Homo sapiens: one gene and its partner. The protein of the gene in region 2 purifies or fractionates together with the protein of the main gene of each other region. This does not show direct contact. Each region holds a gene or a part of one and is shown on either strand. Other genes may lie near its edges.

Region 1 (9,622 bases), on a different chromosome or scaffold from region 2:
ATAACTAGCAATAATCTCCAGACCAGGCTGTACTAAGAAAACTTAACACAAGAGTGGCATCAGAATGCATGGAAAGACAAGGGTAGACAGCGCAGGGACCAATACTGGATCATGCCTGGACCACGGCATACAACTATTTGAAAAAAGAAATCACAAAACCAGTAACTGACCCATAATCTATCCTTTGGGAGGCAATATAAGCAAAAAATAAATAAAAAGAGGCCGGTTTTTGGCATGAAACAGTAGCCTCAGGCTTGTAAACCAGACAGTCCTAGGTTCAAACTGCTGACACTTTGCCAGGTGTATGTATGATGGTTGGGACAAAATACTTTTATGGGGTTCAACTTTCTATTTTATATTCTCATATATGCTACCACTGACATTCTGGTAAGTGCCCATATCTACTCTGTCACACCCAAAACATCCCCAGTCCCTACCAGTGAGGCAAACACCCATGGAGCTGCTCTCTAGCCACTCTTTCCATCTACCTCAATATATCCCAAACCAAACATAGCACTTTTGCATGTATCTGCTCCTTTTCCTGAACTTGCTGTCTCAGTAACCAACACTTGCCGAAACCATAAACTTGGGCCACCTTTTGTCCAAACTTCCCATGTACCCTCAGTCACCAAGATATCCTCAATAGCTCTCAAATCCCTCCTCTACTCTTCAACCCCACTGACTTACCCAGGCCCTCCTCACTTATGAGAACAGTATAAGTGGTCTCAGGACATCCCTTCTGCCTCTCCCTGTATTCTATCTTCCATGCTACTTACGAGAGTAACCTTCCCAAAATACAAATGTAATCACGAAACTCTTCCATGTAAACATGCTAAGACCGTCCCTTTCCCAAAAGCTTTCAGGATAAAGTTCAAATCGCTCAATTTTGCACCCAAATCCCTTAATTATTTGGCTCCTAACCCTGATACTTTATCCCTTATCACTCTCACACCTTCTACCTAGATGTATCAAACAACGTTTTCTATTCTTATGCCTGGAATGCACCCCACATCCTCTCTTGGACAACTCCAATTCACCTTTCAGCTCAAATTCCACCTCTGGAATTTGAAGGAAGGATGCCTTCTGGCCCTGCTCACTGATTTGATGTAAGCGCCTCTCCTTTGGCACCAGGTCCATATCTTTATTACAACACTTTGAACCCCGGCACTCCTTTATTTTTCTGACTCACCTCTTAGTTCCTTAAGGACATGGACTGTATCTTATTCAAGTTTGTATCCTCATTCTTTGTTATTCAATAAACACTTATTAAATATTTTATGGGTCTTTTGTTGCACTGGTACTGGCAACATAAATAGGAGTCTTTGAGTCAAATGGAGTTTGTATCCTGATTTCATCATTAATAAGCTATGTAATCATAGGCAAATTATTGTAAAGTGGGCTATCTTACTCATTCAACTGCTGTAAGACTAAAATTAGATGTATGTAAAGGACTTGGCACATTACCTGGCACATAGTAAGTTCTCAATAAAGGCAAGTGTTATATACACAAATTTTTTAAAATACATATTTCTCAAAGAGCTTACAACCTAGCAGAGGCTCCAATATTAAAATAGGCACTCTTTAAATGAACACTGTATAGGCACACTAATATATCCTTGACCCTAGGTAAACAATGCTTCCTGTCCTACGCTACGCCATTAATACTGTGCGTTTTGCTGTCTAGGGTTTCTTTTGCCCTCTATGCACTCCCACATTTAACAGAGAAAGTATCGGCTTTAGGCAAACACACCAATCATGTTATTGCAAACCTATAGCCACACCTAACACAACAGCATAAGTCAAAGGCAATATAACCAAATGTTAAAATGCACCATCTAGCAATAGCAAATCACGGGATTACTAACCACACTGCCTGAATGAGGCCTGGAACTGTTTACAGGCCCAGGAAAAAGCCTTGGGGACATTTCATCATTCAGTGGCCTTGAAATAACTTCCTCCTCCCTAATCCCTGAAAATGGTTATTAACCAAAATTAGTAATGTGCAAGACATCATCCTAAGTACTTTAGGTCTATCCTCACGGCGCTCCTACCATGCAGGTATAACTGTATCCCAAAAAAAGAAAGTGAGGCAGAGAGGAGTTATAATAGATAACCCACCAAGGCCACACAGTGAAGTGGCAGAACCCAGAAGACACTCTTGGCAATCTTCTCTTTAGTCTACATTCTTTTTGTTTTGTTTCGCTTTGGTTTGGTTTTTGGGTTTTTTTGTTTGTTTGTGTTTTGAACGGAGTCTCACTCTGTCGCCCAGGCTGGAGTGCAGTGGTGTGATCCCGGCTCACTGCAACCTCCGCCTCCCGGGTTCAAGCGATTCTCCTGCCTCAGCCTCCCGAGTAGCTGGGACTACAGGCGCGTGCTACCAAGACTGGCTAATTTTTTGTATTTTTAGTAGAGACGGGGTTTCACCGTGTTAGCCAGGATAGTCTTGATCTCCTGACCTCGTGATCCGCCCGCCTCGGAAGCCCGAAGTGCTGGGATTACAGGCGTGAGCCACCGTGCCCGGCCCTACATTCTTAACTACTTACTGTACCATACCGCTTTCCCTCTCTGACATGAAGATTAAATGACAGCACTCTAAACACTTACTGGCACAACCTGGGCTAGGAACCAAGGACTCCACAAAGAAGTTTAAAGTGGTATGCAAATATAATGTTGCAAGAATTTTCATTATTTAGTGAGTTCCTATGAGGAGTAATGAACTATATAGGGATACTAATAATTGTATATTCTATCAGATTAGGTAGGAGTTTCCTACTTTGAATTACGAAATGATTCTTCTCATCTTAGTAATTTTAAACTGGGCTTAATAAACCTAATGGAAACAAAGACTTCCATTTTTCGGTAAGCTCTTACCCTAGATATAGTATCACAAGTAAAGCTATAAAAAAGATGGGGCCTCACTCCATGAAATATTGGCTGTTTCAGGTTTAGCCCAAAAACATAAAAAGGAGAATAGTAGTAGCAAAGAATAAATGCATTAACTCATCGGCCCACAGGTTTCCCCTGAAATACACATCAGCACGGCTGGAGAGATTGCAAATTAGGGAATGAAAACATAAAAATCAAAAAGGATCAGCTAACTCCAGGGGGAAAAAAATTTCCCCTAGCAGAAGGTTATATCTTGTGGTCACACTACAGACCAGGTCATCCTTGCAGCAGGCATTCAAGCTTGTTCTGAGTTGAATGTAAGGATGCAAGCTCCATCCAACTCAACCCCAAAAATCCGAGTTCAACCTTAACATTTTCAAGAAACATTAGCCCTAGATGTAATTTCGGATACAAAACCAAAAAACAAAAACCTTCTCACCCAAAGGTCGGCCACCATGAAGCCCATGGGCCCAGAGGGAGTACCCGGTAGTTTCAGGCCGCTCGCTTATCTTCCTTTTAAAGAGACCTTGAGGCACCAGTCCTGCCTCCAAACGAAATCCTATTCGGCGCTACCCTCTCTGGAGGAGCCCATTCTTACCCTGCACTAACAACTGCACGGGACTTAACGACTCCACCACCCACCAACTCCTCCAAAAGGGAGAGACACAGCCAAAGCATCCCACTGGGGCGTTCTCTTTCGCACACGGACGCTCCCGCACTCCCTGGCCCTTTCTGGAGCGACGCTCCCCGACTGCCATCTCCGCGATGAAGACAGCCTGTGCCCCACTGCCTGGGACGAGGGTTCCAGCCCCGGCTACTTCACTACTTAGACCTGTCACTTTACTCTCTGCACCTATACTCTCTGGACCTCCGGATCCTCATTTGTTCAAACCTAACTGCCTGTCTGGTTCGTGTTAAACGAGAAAGCACCCGCCCCAGCCCCGCAGCGGGCCCGCCCCAACCGCCTGCTGACTGGCACCCTAGGGGAATGCGGCGGAGAGTGGAGCCGGTGGAAACGCAGGGCAACGCCGCGGGGGCTTGTGGGGCTGGCCCCACGGGGCGGGCTCTTGCCGCCCCCCGCGTATCCCCGCAGCTTGCCGCTCACCCCGCCGCCGCTGACCGCGCCGATGCCGTCGAACTCCCGGCCCAGCCCGTCGGAGTCGTCGAGCACGTACGCGCCGCCGGGCGCCAGCAGCGCACACAGCAGCAAGGGCACCGCGGCGCGGCCCGCCGAACCCGCGGCCGCAGTCATAGCTTTCGCTCGGCGTTGCCAGGAAGCCGAGAGTAGCCACTCAGCCATTGTGTGGGTCACATGACTCCGGCGCCCAGGGAGGCGGGTCCCGTCGCCGCCACGATAGATACGGGCAGGAGGCCGCTGATGCTGACGCCGCCGCCGCCATTTTGAGTGCGGGTCAAGGGCCTCTGACGCAGCTGGCGGAGTGTTGAGAAAAGAAGCAGCGAGCTTTTTCTTATCGCTCGCGTGTCTGTGGTCAGCTACTGGATTTCACATGTACTTACTGCTGGCTTCTCTTCCGGCGTCACCTGGTGGAGCACTTTAACGCAGGGAAGGTGGATTCCAAGGTCCGCCAAAGGAAGAGGGCCATGAGTGGCCCTACCATGGCTCTTCCCCAGCATCTCAGGGAGTATCTACCTCGTGCGAGGACCAGGCTTGGACACCAGGTCCCGATTCCATTGTCATCTTGGTGGAATCACTTTGCTTTTGGAGCCTGAGTTTTCCCTTATGTGAGATGAGGCGAGAAGAGCAGCAGAGTGAGGGACTGAGAGAAAAGTTAATAAGCACTCAGTACATTTGAATGCATTCCACAAGTGGCAAATAGCTGAGAAGGTTCTCCAGTCTGGTAACTACCCCGGCATATTCAAAGCTTTTAGCCTTGAAGGAGTTAATAATATACCACCTCAAAATATGCTGCTGTGGCATATTGACTATTTTAAATTAAAGGCACTTAAAAACAGCAGGTGCAAGATCACTGTCATGGATATTATGTGTCTTAAAAGGAGGAGATGAAATTCCCATGTGAAAGATGTCTTCCCTATAAAATAACATTGTTATCTTCAAGGACAGAAAGTTGAAGTCGAGGGAAATCTGTCCAAACAAAATTTGTTAATCCCTATCTTTCTAGTCGCTTCTTTACCCCAAGCCCCTTCGCCTTATCATGTTTCACAACTACTATTTTTTGTCCATTTCACTCTATAAGCAATTGGCTCTTAACTGCTGCTTTAGGTCTTTTTTTTTTTTAATGAGGGCCCCCGTGCTATGTAAAATAAACATTTGTGTGGTTGTCTCCTGTCAGTCTATTAATATCTTAAATCAATTTAATACTAGGGCCATGCTGGGACCCTACAGGGACGAAGGTGAAATTTTGCCTCCCCTACAATTTTATAAACTATCTTCCACTGTCAGTTGAAGTGATTCCAGACAGGTAACTCTAAATTGGTAGGAAAGTTGTGAATTGCCCTGAATTTCTGCCACATCCAGCACTGTCCTGAGATTTCTGATTTCCTTGTTATTGAAGTAAATTAAAGAGACTCTGAAGAGCTGCAGAGAAAGATTTTCTGATCCCCAAATTTCTCTTAGCAGAAGTATGGAACTGGTTATCATTGCCTACACAAGCCCCTGAGATACCACAATGGCAAGGAAAAGACCCAGAGACTTTAGGACCTGTGGGATTTGTCTGCAGAACCCTATTTGGAATCTGATTATTTTGCCCCTTAACCACAAACCTAAATCTAAGTTTCAAGAACTCAATTATACTTGAAGGTCAAAGCTCTGGGCAATCCAATAAATATGCACATTAAGAACCCGATATCCCTGGGTTCTTAATGTACATTAGATATGTTTGTTCTTTCTTTCTTTTTGAATTGACTCTACGTCTATCCTGGTTTACTAAGGACAGTCACAACTTTTGTCTAAACATAATTACTGATAATGCTCCTTTCACCCTCAGTAGTCTTCTGGCTTGGATCAGTTAAATAGTCCCCTGTGTATGAACCACTTATTTTCTTTGGTTTCTTCTTTCCCCAGTACAACACGAATCTGAACTCTCTGCCTTGCCACTGCAACCAGTTTATGATGCAAGTCAGTAATTTTCAGTTCTGTGGATTTACTGTTACAGAATTCACTCTGATCCATTTGTTCTAACACAGTATTTTAAGCATGAGCTGGAGCTCCTGTGGATACAAGCCACAGTAACCATTCCATCAAGTGAATGTTAAGCTTCTCTTACCAGCTCTTAACAAGCGCATAAGACCCACTTAATACCGTGACTAGATGGGAAATACCAAGGTGATGACAGAGGAAACTACCTTACACATAAAACTAGGAAGTTGCATGACGATGTATGAATACCCAGCATACACCATCCTGTAGTACGTCATTGTGAAACGGGTCAGTGGTCAGTGGTCTCGTTGTCTGAGGTGTTATCCAAGCTTGTTGTCTCACAACCAAGAGAATTAAGGAGTGTGGACACCAGAGTGAGGTTGAAGAGAAAGTTTATTATATGAAAGAAGAAAGCTTTCTTTCTTTGCCATTTTGCCACTTTTACAGTTGAATCCAAAAGCTTTTATAAGAAACTCCTCTCATCTCTGTAGCTGTTTGTGTAACTTACTTGTAAAGCTATCTGTGCAGCTCCCCTTATCTGTGCAGCTGTGGGTATGTCTTGGGTAAGGATAAAGTTCAGCTTCTCTTGTTTGTGTAACTGTGGGTTCTAGGTAATCACCCTCTCCACCCCCATGCAAGTTCCCACAGAGCCCACCATGTATGTGCCTGAAAAGGGGAAGAAACTTTTTCCTGGGAACCTGCTAATCACACAAAGAACAAAAGGCTTCTATGTTGGGCCTTCCTTTCTTATCAGGGCAGCTGTTGCCTGAGTTTTCCCCAGGCCACTCTATGTGTGCCTGTAGCTTGATTTTTCAGGCTGTCTTTCTGTTTAAAAGAATTTTACCAAAGACCAACTTTAGCTGTCTGCCCAACTAAGTTTTCCCTTTTCTCGTCCCTCAATTGCACCTTGTAGTTGGAATGCACGCCACAAATATTTGAGCAATGTGTGAAGTCTACAAAAGAGGAAGCATAAACTCTAATGGAAAAGGTAGCCTCACTTCCAGGAAGTCCCAGTAGTTCCTATTAGTTCAGTTACCAAAGAAATTGCTTACCAGATAAATATTTTTTGTTTCTAATTTCTGATCTATATTCATGAGAGCAGACATGAGGTAAGAAAGTTTCTAATAAAAGGCCAATAAATACATGCTGACAGAAATCCTTGGAGTGCTGGGCACGGCACTCAAATGTGCTCAAGATGTGAGATAAAGAAAAATGACAGTTACCCCACGAGTGATCATATGCTTAGCTTCCCTTGCGTCTGTGGATCAGGGTCAGTGAGATAAGACGGTAAGAAAGGAAGGTCCCAGTTTTCAGATTTTAAATGAGTTTAAAAAGTAATGACAGTGTTTCTCTCTCTGTCTTTTTAATCTGAAACACTTCAAGAATTTGCATGTCATCCTTGCTCAGAGGCCACACTGATCTCTGTAACATTCCAGTGTTTGTAAATGTGCTGCCAAAGGAAACACGATGATTTTTCTCTTAAATAACAGGTGTTTCTAAGTATCACAACTATACTTCAGCCACCCCAAATCTCTCCTTTTTCTAAATAAAATAATGTGATCAAAATCAAATAGTCTCTTGAGAAGGATCAGAGATCTTGCCTTTTAATGAAAATTTATTGATAAACTCTAATAGCAGTCTGGATTTTTTTTTTTATTTCCCCAAGACTATCATAAAACGGTATGATAGCAGTCTGTTGTCTCACTTCAGGAAAAGGCTTTACTTTTATAAATCAGTCCACCTCCCCTTCAGTCTACCATTGATGGGCATTTAGGTTGATTCCATGTTTTTGCTATTAGGCTGTCAGAAATTCCAGGGCAGAGGCCAAGTTTATTTCTTCTTTGTATGTCTTAAGCACAGTGCCCAAACTGTGCTAAGTACTCAATAAATATTAGTTGAATTGAACTAAAAGACAAATCACTGAATGGTCACATAAGGGGATACGAATAAAGAATTATTTACAAAAGGAGTTGGAAACGTTTCTTAAAGTAGGAATCCCCTGGGACATAAGAGTGTGGAGTGTTTTCTTGAACTGTCCTGTAACATCTGCTATATTTTTTACCTTTTATTTTAGGTTCAGGGTGCATGTGCAGGTTTGTTACAAAGGTAAATTGCATGTCCTAGGGTTGATGTACAGATTATTTCATTACCCAGGTAATAAGCATAGTACTCAATAGGTAGTTTTTTGATCCTTCCCCATCCCCCATCCTCCACCCTTAAGTCGGCCCCAGTGCCTGTTGTTTTGTTGTTGTTTGTGTCCATATGTACTCGATGTTCAGCTCCGTCTTATAAGTGAGAATATGCAGTATTTGGTTTTCTATTCCTGTGTTAGTCTTCTTAGGGTAATGGCCTCCAGCTCCATTCATGTTGCTACAAAGAACATGATCTCATTCTTTTTTTTTTTTTTTTTTTTTTTTTTGAGACAGAGTCTTGCTCTGTCATCCAGGCTAGAGTGCAGTGGTGCGATCTCGGCTCACTGCAATCTCTGCCTCCCAGGTTCAAGCGATTCTCCTGACTCAGCCTCCTGAGTAGCTGGGATTACAGGGTGTGCCACCACACCTGGCTAATTTTTGTATTTTTAATAGAGACGGGGTTTCACCATGTTGGTCAGGCTGGTCTCGAACTCCTGACCTCGTGATCTGCCCGCCTCGGCTTTCCAAAGTGCTGGGATTACAGGCCTGAGCCACAGCACCTGGCCTGTCATTCTTTTTTATAGCTGCATGGTATTCCAGGTTGTATATGTAACACATTTTCTTTATCCATTAATAGACCACTGATGGAGATTTAGGTTGATTCCATGGCTTTGCTATTGCAAATAGTGCTGAAATGACCATCCACTTGCATGTGTCTTTATGGGAGAATGACTTATATTCCTTTCAGTATATATCCAACATCTGCCATTTGTCTGGTCTTTCAACTCTGGACGTGTTTCTTGATGGCAACTGTTAGTTATACTGCCCTACTGAGTGACTTCTCTCTAAAATATGTTATAAGGCTCTATTCATTCAAGATTTTATATAAACAAAATGAAAATAAGTCAAAGGACAGAATCCACCTAATGAAATAAATTATAAATTGCTTACTGAACATTTTCTTAAGTATAACTACAAATAAAAACTTCTATAGCAAAGAGCAGTGTAGTATAGTAGTTAGAATACTGGCTCTGGAGCCCCAGGTCTCCTGGCTTCAAATCTTTCTCCTATTGCTTAGCAGCAGTGTAATTTTGGTTAAGTTATGTAACTTCTTTGGGCTTCAGTTTACCCATCCATAAAATAGAGATAATGATGGCAATACATTAATGTGAACATTGGACAAGCTAATATTTTTATAGCACTTAGAAGAGTGACCCACACATCCTATGTGTTATATAAGTGCTTATTATATAAATAATAACATAAATGACATACCTATATAACTATCGTACAACTTTTGAGTTTACTGCTTTCCCCACAATTAATTCTGCAAAAACAGATTATTCCTGTCTTTGTATTGGTCTCAGTTTTTCTTTTTGCTGGGTTGTTGTCCACAGTCATCCAAATCTATGTTGTGTGTGGCTGATTCCTCATAGTGAGAGTCTTGGTGTGAAAGAGAATTCTGCCTCCTTCAGAAGTTAAGGAG
Region 2 (10,377 bases):
TTTAAAAAGCGTAATTTTTGTTTATTTCTTTCTTTTGAGACAGGTTCTCACTCTGTCACTCAGGCTGCAGTGCAGTTGCGCGATCATGGCTCACTGCAGCCCCAACCTCCCAGGCTCAAGCAATCCTCCCATCTCAGCCTCCTGAGTAGCTGGGACTACAGGTGCATACCACCATACCCAGCTAGTTTTTTCATGTTTTGTAGGCCAGGGGTCCCTCTATCTTGCTCAGGCTGGCCTCAAACTCCTGGCCTTAACCAGTTCTCCTGCCTTGGCCTCCCAAAGTGCTAGAATTAAATGAATGAGGCACCATAGCAGGCCCAAAATGTTTAGTTTATTTTACTCGTATTTATTAAATCTGACAACTCTATCTCAGTGTCATTCAGGGATCTTTGTAAACATTAGCTATAGTACACAAGATGTAAAGTGCTTTCCTTTCACACAAATGAAAGATATAACAGGAAAATGTGGTTGTAATTGAAAAATTATAGGACTTTGAATTAAGACTTGGGTTCTAAGTTCTGGTTTCGACTTGACTTCTTAGTAAATGTATGGCTTTAGATAAGTCACTTAACCTAAGTATCAGGTTCCTCACACTGTATAAAATGTTTGGGTTTATTTGTTTGTTTTTGAGCATCAACTATATTCCAGGAACTTTACATGCATGATTTCAGTTAATCCTTACAATGACCTCATGAGGAAGGTCTTATTATCCCTATTGTCAAGACAGGTACCTGTGGCTTGGTTGAAGCTCTGTGAAAGCACGGACCATCTCTTTCTTGTTCACTGCTGTGTCCTTTGTGTCTAGCATGGTAAACCTAGGAGGTACTCAATACATATCAAATGTATGAAAGAAGACCCAAACTCACATAGCTAAATTAAGGGACAGAGCCATGATTTGAACCCAAATCATTTTGATTTCAAAATCTTCATTTTGTTCTTTTAATTAAATTTTTATTGATGTATACTTTACATATAGTAAAATGCACAATTTTAAACCCATGACTCTATAGACGTTTACCTGTGTACATATTCCATGTAACCACTATGGGATCAAGATATAGAACATTTCCATCTTCCTGAAAGTTCCTTCAAGCTCCTCCCCAGTCTATGCCCCCAGAGTTAACCTCTATTCTGACTTCTATCACCAAAGCTGCCGCTCTTAAGTACTAGGTTTCTCCTCTCCTGGGTTGTGTCAGATGATATGCAAAGTATTCCTGAAAGTGTTTTTGCAAACTCAGGCTGCATCTGAGTGCTGTTGGCGTTTAGAATAGGTCTTCATGGGCCGGGCGCGGTGGCTTACGCCTGTAATCCCAGCGCTCTGGGAGGCCAAGGCGGGTGGATCACATGGTCAGGAGTTCCAGACCAGCCTGGCCAATATGGTGAAACCCTGTCTCTACTAAAACTACAAAAATTAGCAGGGCGTGGGGCGGGCGCCTGTACTCCCAGCTACTCGGGAGGCTGAGGCAGGAGAATTGCTTGAAACGTGGAGGTTGCAGTGAGCACAGATTGTGCCACTGCACTCCAGCCTGGGCCATAGAGCGAGACTCGGTCTCAAAAAAAAAAAAAAAAAATAGAATAGGTCTTTAGGCCAGCCGCTCATCACCAATACAAAAGTGAGATTCAGCAGGGTGCAGTGGCTCACACCTGTAATCCCAACACTTTGGGAGGCCGAGAGGGAGGATGACTTGAGCCCAGGAGTTTGAGACCAGCCTGGGCAACATGGTGAAACCCTGTCTCTACAAAAATTACCCAAAAAAGCCCGGCATGGTAGCACATGCCTGTAGTCCCAGCTACTCAGGAGGCAGAGGTGGGAGGATCACTTAAGCCCAGAAGGTCAAGGCTTGATCGCCTTGACAGAGTGAGACTGTCTCTAAAAAAATTAATTTTTAAAAATCAAAATTTTGAGGCTATATTATGCCCTGCATTTGTCAAAATGGAAGGGTTTTACTCAAGATTGCCTTCTGATCCTACTTTCTGATTCTCTGCAGTAATCTTGTCCTTAAAAAAAAAAAAAAAAAAAACTACATGTTTTCTTTATCATAGACCCTCTGGTTCTCTCTCCTGGGATATTCCTGAGCCCATTGCTTAGACACTTTTTAATCACCACTTCATTACCCAAAACGTATCTGGCTTCATCCTATAAAGCAGTCTGAAATACTAAGAAAAATACCAGATTAAAATAAAACCAAATTGATATCTCAAAAAAATTCCTCCACTATTGACTATGGTATTGAATTTACTCTTTCTTCTTTTTTTTTCTTCATTCAACAGGTATTTGCTGAGCACCAAATGCTGCCCCCTCCAGTTTGCTGTTTGAGTGGAATTGCTCATTGCCCTGTCTTGGCTGTCCTGTAAACCACAAGGCCTACTCATATGTTCTAGGAAACACACATCGTTCTTTAGTACTGGCCACACTTTAAACTATACCTTTCTTCCCTTACAGTAAGGGGTAACCCACTGTACACCAAATTTTAACAGCCAGTGAGCTTAAAGATCTATCTGACAGAAATCAGATGGCCTCCACTGTAGCAGATTTTCAATTTATCTCCTGGTCAAACTTTGGTGCTCACCTCTGAAGGGTTACAGGCTTTTACACCAATCAGGTACCCCCTGATTTGGAAGGGAACCTCTTATCCCAGAAGACAGTATCACTCGTGGTTACAATAGCATTTTGGGCATCAGGCCGCACAGGTTCAGTGAGTCTGGCCATGCCACATAATCTCTGTGGGACAAGCAAATTAACTGGCCTCAATTGTCTCATTTGTAAAATAGGAATATAGTACACATATTACAGTGTGTCCAGAATTGGTGGGTTCTTGGTCTCACTGACTTCAAGAATGAAGCCGCAGACCCTCATGGTGAGTGTTACAGTTCTTAAAGACGTCGTGTCCGGAGTTTGTTCCTTCTGATGTTCGCATGTGTTCGGAGTTTTTTCCTTCTGGGGGGTTCGTGGGCTCGCTGGCTCAGGAGTGAAGCTACAGGCCTTCCAGGTGAGTGTTACAGCTCTTAAGGTGGCACGTCTGGAGTTATTTGTTTCTCCCAGTGGGTTCGTGGTTTCAATGACTTCAGGAGTGAACCTGCAGACCTTCCCAGTGAGTGTTGCAGCTCATAAAAGCAGTGTGGACCCAAAAAGCAGTAGCAAGATTGATAGCAAAGAGCAGAACAACACAACTCCCACAGTGTGGAAGGCAACCCGAGCGGGATGCCACTGCTGGTTCAGGCAGCCTGCTTTTATTCGCTTATCTGGCCCCACCCACATCCTGCTGATTGGTCCATTTTACAGAGAGCCGATTGGTCTGTTTTACAGACAGCTGATTGGTCCGTTTTGACAGGGTGCTGATTGGGGCGTTTACAATCCCTGAGCTGGACACAAAAGTTCTCCACGTCCCCACTAGATTAGCTGGATACAGAGTGTCCATTGGTGTATTTACAAACCCTGAGCTAGACAGAGTGCTGATTGGTGCATTTACAAACCTTGAGCTAGATACAGAGTGCCAATTGGTGCATTCACAATCCCTTAGCTAGACATAAAGATTCTCCAAGTCCCCACTAGATACAGAGTGTGGATTGGTGCATCCACAAACCCTGAGCTAGACACAGGGTGCTGATTGGTGTGTTCACAAACCTTGAGCTAGACACAGAGTGCTGATTGGTGCACCCACAATCCCTTAGCTAGACACGAAGGTTCTCCAAGTCCCCACTAGACTCAGGAGCCCAGCTGGCCTCACTCAGTGGATCTTCCACTGGGCCGCAGGTGGAGCTGCCCGCCAGTCCCGCACCGTGCACCGGCACTCCTCAGCCCTTGGGCGGTCGATGGGACCAGGCACCTTGGAGCAGGGGGCTGCGCTCGTCAGGAAGGCTCAGGCCGCGCAGGAGCCCGAGGGAGGAGGGTTGGTGGGGCGGAGAGACTCGGGCATGGCTGGCTGCAGGTCCCGAGCCCTGCCCCACGGGGAGGCAGCTAAGGCCCGGTGAGAAATCGAGTGCAGCGCCGGTGGGCCAGCACTGCTGGGGGATCCGGCGCACCCTCCACAGCTGCTGGCCTGGGTGCTAAGTCTCTCACGCCTGGGGCCAGCAGGGCGGGCCGGCCGCTCCGAGTGTGGGGCCCGCCAGGCCCACGCCCACCTGGAACTCTAGCTGGCCCGCAAGCGCCGCGCGCAGCCCCGGTTCCCGCCCGTGCCTCTCCCTCCACACCTCCCCGAAAGCGGAGGGAGCCGGCTCCGGCCTCGGCCAGCCCAGAGAAGGACTTCCATGGTGCAGCGGCGGGCTGAAGGGCTCTTCAAGCGCGGCCAGAATGGGCGCCGAGGCCGAGGAGGCACCGAGAGTGAGCAAGGGCTGTGAGGGCTGCCAGCACGCTGTCACCTCTCAATAGGGTTGTGAGGATTAAATGAGATGATATGTGTAAAGGATTCAGCACATGGTAGGCACACAATAGATGTTACCTATTATGTAAAGCAAACATCTAAATAAGAAGTCACCAAGTCCTGAGCACCTGCCTCCCTACAAGAATCTTTCTTCATAAAATTAACTTGCTCCTCTATCAAAAATACTCATCAAACACTATATATTATCGTTTGTTTATTGCTCATATTCCCTAATAGGCCATGAGCTCCCTAAGCACAAGGATTTTGTCTACCTTACTCTCTACTCTCCACAAAATCAAGTGCATAAAAAACACTCATTAAACACTTAATACACAAGTCACTGAATACATCTTTTGGCTAAAGTCCACTACCCACTTGAGGTACTGCCACTCACCTCTAAACCAACATTTTTCCCTAAGCTTGGTTATCTTAATCATCTAATTAATATGATTCTTCTTAAATTTTCATAGTATTAGGATCTATATTGGAGGGAAAGGAATAAGAATGAACATTTGTTGGGTATCCATTATTTGACAGACTTTATGTCTTCATTTCTAATTTCATACAGTCTTATAAAGTGGGAATTGGAATAACCCACTTTGCCTGTGAGTAAACTAAAGTTCTAGTTACAACCATTGAGAATCCCTATTTCTTTCCATCACAGCGTTTATCTCAGTTTGCAATTACACACTCAAGTGTGATTATTCGTCTAATGCTTTCACCAGACTGTAATCTCAAAGATAGCAGAAAAGGGTCTGCATTTGCTCATAACAGCGCCTAACAAGCAGGCATATAATAAGTATAGGGCTACATAGTAGGTATGTAATAAACATTCAGTGAATAAATGAGTGGAGTGAGCATAGGGGTAGATGTCAAAGAAATCTGGCTTCTTGTAGTGTTTAAATTCCGCAGGCACCATTTTTTCTTAGTAGGCAATATTCGCAAGGAGAAGAACTAGACCCCATGGAGTCTGAGGCGTTTCCAACACTAATAAAAGAGTACCTGATTAATATAGCTATGGCTGTGATTAATAGAGTGCATTTACTATTGTGTGAGCAAATCCCATTCCCTGTGACAAATGTATTCTATACATGAAATGAACAGTACAACATTTTACAGGCTTCACGGTCAACAGTTACATTCCGGGAAATTTTTGACGTTGAACGAATATTCCAAGAATAAATAACTCAAGAAGAACCTGTGACTATATCTCCAGAAACCTTTTGCCGCTTGTCAGTGAAACTAATAGAGTACAGAGCCTATTTAAATGTAAATTTAAATACAACATTTTCTCCACCTTTCTGCTCTCTTTGTTCCTTGTGGTCCGGAGGTTACAGGACTATATATATTCTCCAATACACACGTGTATAGGGATTTGGGGTTTTTGCTTTCAGTTTTATGCAAGACTAAATCAAGGTATTTGGGGATTTGAATGTTCTGTTCCCACAGTTAGGGAGGAGGGAATGTGCTCTGAAAACAGAAAAAAAGTACTCTGGGGCGGGGGCTGAGGCGACCACCGTGGGGCCCATCCTCAGCCTAGGACGCTGTTGCTAGGCAACTCCCTGCGTTCTCAACTCCCGCCCGAGAGCCACTTCCCGGGCCCTCATTGCCAAGGAGATCGACGCCCCAACTCAGCCCTGCCGTAAACACGCGCGGTCTTGCGACAGTGCCGCGCCTGCCGCTACGTGCGCGCCCTCTGCCCCCATCTCCACTCTCCGCCCGGCCGCCATTGCCTCGTGCCCGCGCCGGTCGGTTGGTGGCGCCTTTGTCCTACGGCGGGCAGGTGGGCCGACGCGGAGGCGGCAGCGGCGGGCCTGAGGCGAAGGAGCGGCCGGGAGCCCGCCGCGCTGGTAGCGGTGAGTGCCGGGAAGCGCTGGCCGTCAGCCGAGGCGTGGGGCTGACGGGCAGGCCGTTGTGGGGGGCCTGGCCGGACGGGGAGGCTGAGGCGGGAAGGCCCACTCGACGCGCGGCCACGGTCTCGGCTCCTCTCCGGGTGCGCGCGGTGCTGCGCATGCCCGGTGCGGGGCGCGGCCGCCTCCGGCTCCCGTCAGGCCCAGGCCCGGCCGGCCGAGGCGGCCTACGGTTCTCTGTGGTGGACGCAGGTCGGCGGCGTCGCATCGCAGCCGCCTGTCTGTGCACGAACGGTCGGTCACTAGGAGTCCTCAAGGCTTCTCTGGTTGAGCCGCACATCCCGCACCCCCTGTCGAAACGGTGGAGTCGCTCGCCCGCGGGTCCTCAGCGAGTCAGTGGCGCAGTCGGGATTCGAACCGGGCCCAAGGCGTCCCGTGGCACCGGGCGTTCTCCAGGCGTGCAGCGCCGAGCGGTGTACTGAGCGCTGTCCCCCGCCACCGTCTCGCGGCCCCTGACCGCATTCTCGGGGTGTCTCCTTGTGGTGTGACACCCCACGCGTTTTGTAGGCGCGGACCTCGGGCCCAGAGAACGGGGAGAGGAACTGTTCCCGGGTTTACCACGTAGCTCAGCGCCAGCGTCCGATCCGGCCGGCTTTCCAAGCTCCCGGCGCGGGGCACTGTCCGCTCCCCGCCAGCGGGCGAGGGGCTTCTCTTAGGACGGCGTTGCACACGTTTCAGTCTCGCGTTGCACCTTTATGTCCGTGGACCATCTGTACTGCTATTTACCAAATGTTACATTTTTTAAAAAATTCAAACTGACTCTTTTTTTCTCCTTAAATATATTTAAGGCGGCAACTTCAATCACAAACCGGGTACTGGAAAGCCAGTTATTTTTCTAATGCTTATAAAAAAAATAAATATCTGTCTGTTGAAATAAACAGTGCGTCCTTGTTCCTCCTGAAATTATTCTGCGTTCCACACTTTGGGAAACGCTGCCCGAGGAGTAGCTGATTAATTGTGGTTCTTCTGGCTTGCACTCTGTGCACAGAATTTTTCCTGAGGCAAAGCAGATTCTATGAATGCCCTGGGCTCTTCAGGGATAATGTAACAGCTTTCTTGTAAACTGTTCTCTTTGTTGACTTAAAAGTGTTAGTCCCAGGGAACTGCAAGAACTGTGTTCACTCAGGTGCACCCGGTGTGCCTGAATTTTCTTACAGCGTTGTGATGTCGTAGCCCCCTGTTGGCTCATAAAAAGATGTTTCTACAAATGCTGGGGAAGCTTTTGTGAGTTTTGACAACTCTTAATTTAATGTTTTCTCTATGAGTCAGTCTGGGTGTGAAAACTAACTTTGTGTCTACTTTTTGCAACCAGTAAAGCCCATGCTTTGCATTGTGGATATTAGAAATCACTTGGCTATTTGTTAACATCCATTTCTTCCTTTATTGTGATTTCTTTGCCTTTCTTTGAGCTCATCTGTCACTCTTCAGATTGCCTTTGAAACCTCTGACACTTCTCTTAACCTAAAACTTAGAAACACTGATTTTCCTTGTAGAATGTCCCAGCGAATCCATATTGCAAGGCTCATTGGAAGGAGTTTTTCTAGATTCAGTTTGCTCAATGTTGCATACCTGTGAACACCACAAGTTTAAAGGAGGCATTGACAGATTAACTTACTTGTAAGTTAATAGTGTGTTCATAAGATCTGTTTATGTGAATGTAAGAGCAGATTTAATTTAAATCATTGACAGGAAAGTCCCATAAGTCAGTTCAGGCTTATTCAAGTTTTCTTCCCCTCCCCTCAAAGGCTGTGTAAAAAAATATATATATATGTATATGTATATATATGTGTGTGTGTGTATGTATCTCTCCCCCTGTTAAAAACATGTTTCTTTGGGGTTACCTTGGTATGATCACAATGTAGAATTTACGTAAGGCTAAGGTCATTTTCTTCACATTTCTGAGAATTTGATTTAAGCCCGGCGTCCGTTTCAGAACTTCAGCAAATGGAAACTCATCTACCAGTGCTTGAGAGCTAAGAAAAAACAACTTGTTTGTTTTGGTTTTGTTTTTGTTTTTTCTGAGACAGAGCTTCACTCTTGTTGCCCAGGCTGGAGTGCAGTGGTGCGATCTTGGCCCCCGGGTTCAAGCAATTCTCCTGCCTCAGTCTCCTAAGTAGCTGGGATTACAGGCGTGCGCCACCACGCCCGGCTAATTTTGTATATTTTTAGTGGAGACGGGGTTTCTCCATGTTGGTCAGGCTAGTCTCGAACTCCCAACCTCAGGTGATCTGCCCGCCTCTGCCTCCGAAAGTGCTGGGATTACAGGCATGAGCCACCGCGTCCAACCAGAATAAACAATTTTTGGAAAGACTTTCGTAGTCTGATGAGAAAAGATTTATTGGTTTGAAACTTCATTTTAAATAATCATTGCAAGCAGTCCATGTTTATGACCTGCAGATGGCAGTGCCTTTGTGTAATGTTTTACTACTGTGAGGATTAATAAAATTTAGTTGTGCTTTTAAGAATGGAAAATCTTCACAAGAAATATATTAAACTTTTTCTTCCCTTCAGTTTAGGTTGTTCTCTTGTTTTTGACTCCCCACGTGAAGAATGAAACGTCTATTCCTGAAGTCACTGTTACTCTTAGTGTAGTAATGATAATAACATACAGCCAGTAGTGCATATGGTAAATACTAAATCATTGCTCCTGCCCGTCATCTTATGAGACTGATAAACTAGTTTGATCTTTTTTATTTATAGGGAAATGATGACTCAAAGAGGTTAGATTTCTTGCCCCAGATCACATAATTAGTAGAACATATTCAAGACATCATTGGAGATAATTGATTTCAGGGTCAAGCAAAATTGGGAAATGTTGAGATATAGTGGTGTCCTTACTCCAAAACTTCTCAGAGGCATTTATGTGCTAAATATGTGCAATGTCAATATCTGAGAGAGGAAGTTATCATGATGCCTTTCTCCTGCTATCCTCTCATGAATATTTTGAAGTAATAGTGTTCCTCAGAACTGACTACTCTTTCTACTACGCTGTATTTCCTCTCTGTACCTTGTGGTTTATTAATGATTACTGCATATCTTTAAGACAGCTGCTTTTAAAGCTCAATATCAGCTTTTTTGTGCAAAAATAGTTGTCCTGTGAATAGCACATATATTTGTTTAGACCATTCTGCTTAAGCAGAGTTAAACTGTCAAAAAGTTAAAAGAGCAATGACTAACAGAATTATCCTTTATGTTACTCTCATTAATGAGAGTCATTAATGACAGGATCAGGGTAAAGCCACTGTCTCAAGCAGCAGTACATTAGAGAAATATGAAGTATATTGACAGCTAAATATATAATACCAGCATGCATGCTGCTTTTTAAATGGTGGTTTTGTTACCACCAGATATGAATATTTATGGGAATGGTCATCTTCATTCTTTATCCTTTCACTTAAAAAAAGAGATAATAGGTCATCTGGACCAATTTTATGTTAAGGAAATAGTTCACCTCATAAGAATCAGAACTTTTCCAGACATCCTATGTAAAGACCAGACAACTTTAGGCAAGGATCAGGGCAGCTTAAGTTGCATTAGAAAACAGAGTGTCTTGTCTTATACCTTTAGCTCTGTAAAGTATCTTAAGGCTGGGTACAGTGGCTCACACCTGTAATCCCAGCGTTTGGGGAGGCTGAAGTGGGAAGATCCCTTTTGATAGAAGTTTGAGACCAACCTGGGCAACATGGTGAGATCCTGTCTCTACAAAAAAAATTAGCCAGGGTGGTGGTGCATGCACCTGTATTCCTAGCTACATGGGAGCCCTTTATTGAAAGTAAAATCATGACTTTTTCAATTTTTTTCTCCTTCAGTGTCAAACCAATGGTCTTTGAAGAATGTTACTAAAATGGGCAATATTTTGAATGTCTTACATTTAAATACTCCCTCACCGCATTTGGGGATAATATACATAAAGTTTCGTTAATTTGGCTTCATTGAGACTCTGTGGTAGTTCAGTTTATAGCCCCCAATAGACCCTCTAGCCACTAGATTCTTCCTTGTCCATAGCAAAGTGTTTTGCAATCTGGATCTAGTCCAACTCTTGCTTCATGTTATTCCTCTCTCTTTTATTCCTCCTATCCCCGTGTTCCCAACACCAAACTTCCTGT

Evidence for each region.
Region 1: the proteins of NCOA5 (region 2) and GALC purify together in Homo sapiens (affinity purification with mass spectrometry; 3 studies listed by BioGRID and IntAct, with this or other methods). This does not show direct contact.

Annotation. Positions count from the first base shown.
Region 1 is NC_000014.9:87,988,979-87,998,600, forward strand, and holds the start of GALC (galactocerebrosidase isoform a precursor), read right to left. Parts: upstream 4,205-9,622; 5' UTR 4,187-4,204; coding exon 3,992-4,186; intron 3,877-3,991; exon of another isoform or gene 3,353-3,876; coding exon of another isoform or gene 3,326-3,352; exon of another isoform or gene 2,119-3,325; intron 1-2,118. UniProt on the Homo sapiens protein: Hydrolyzes the galactose ester bonds of glycolipids such as galactosylceramide and galactosylsphingosine.
Region 2 is NC_000020.11:46,085,657-46,096,033, reverse strand, and holds the start of NCOA5 (nuclear receptor coactivator 5), read left to right. Parts: upstream 1-6,071; 5' UTR 6,072-6,217; intron 6,218-10,377. UniProt on the Homo sapiens protein: Nuclear receptor coregulator that can have both coactivator and corepressor functions.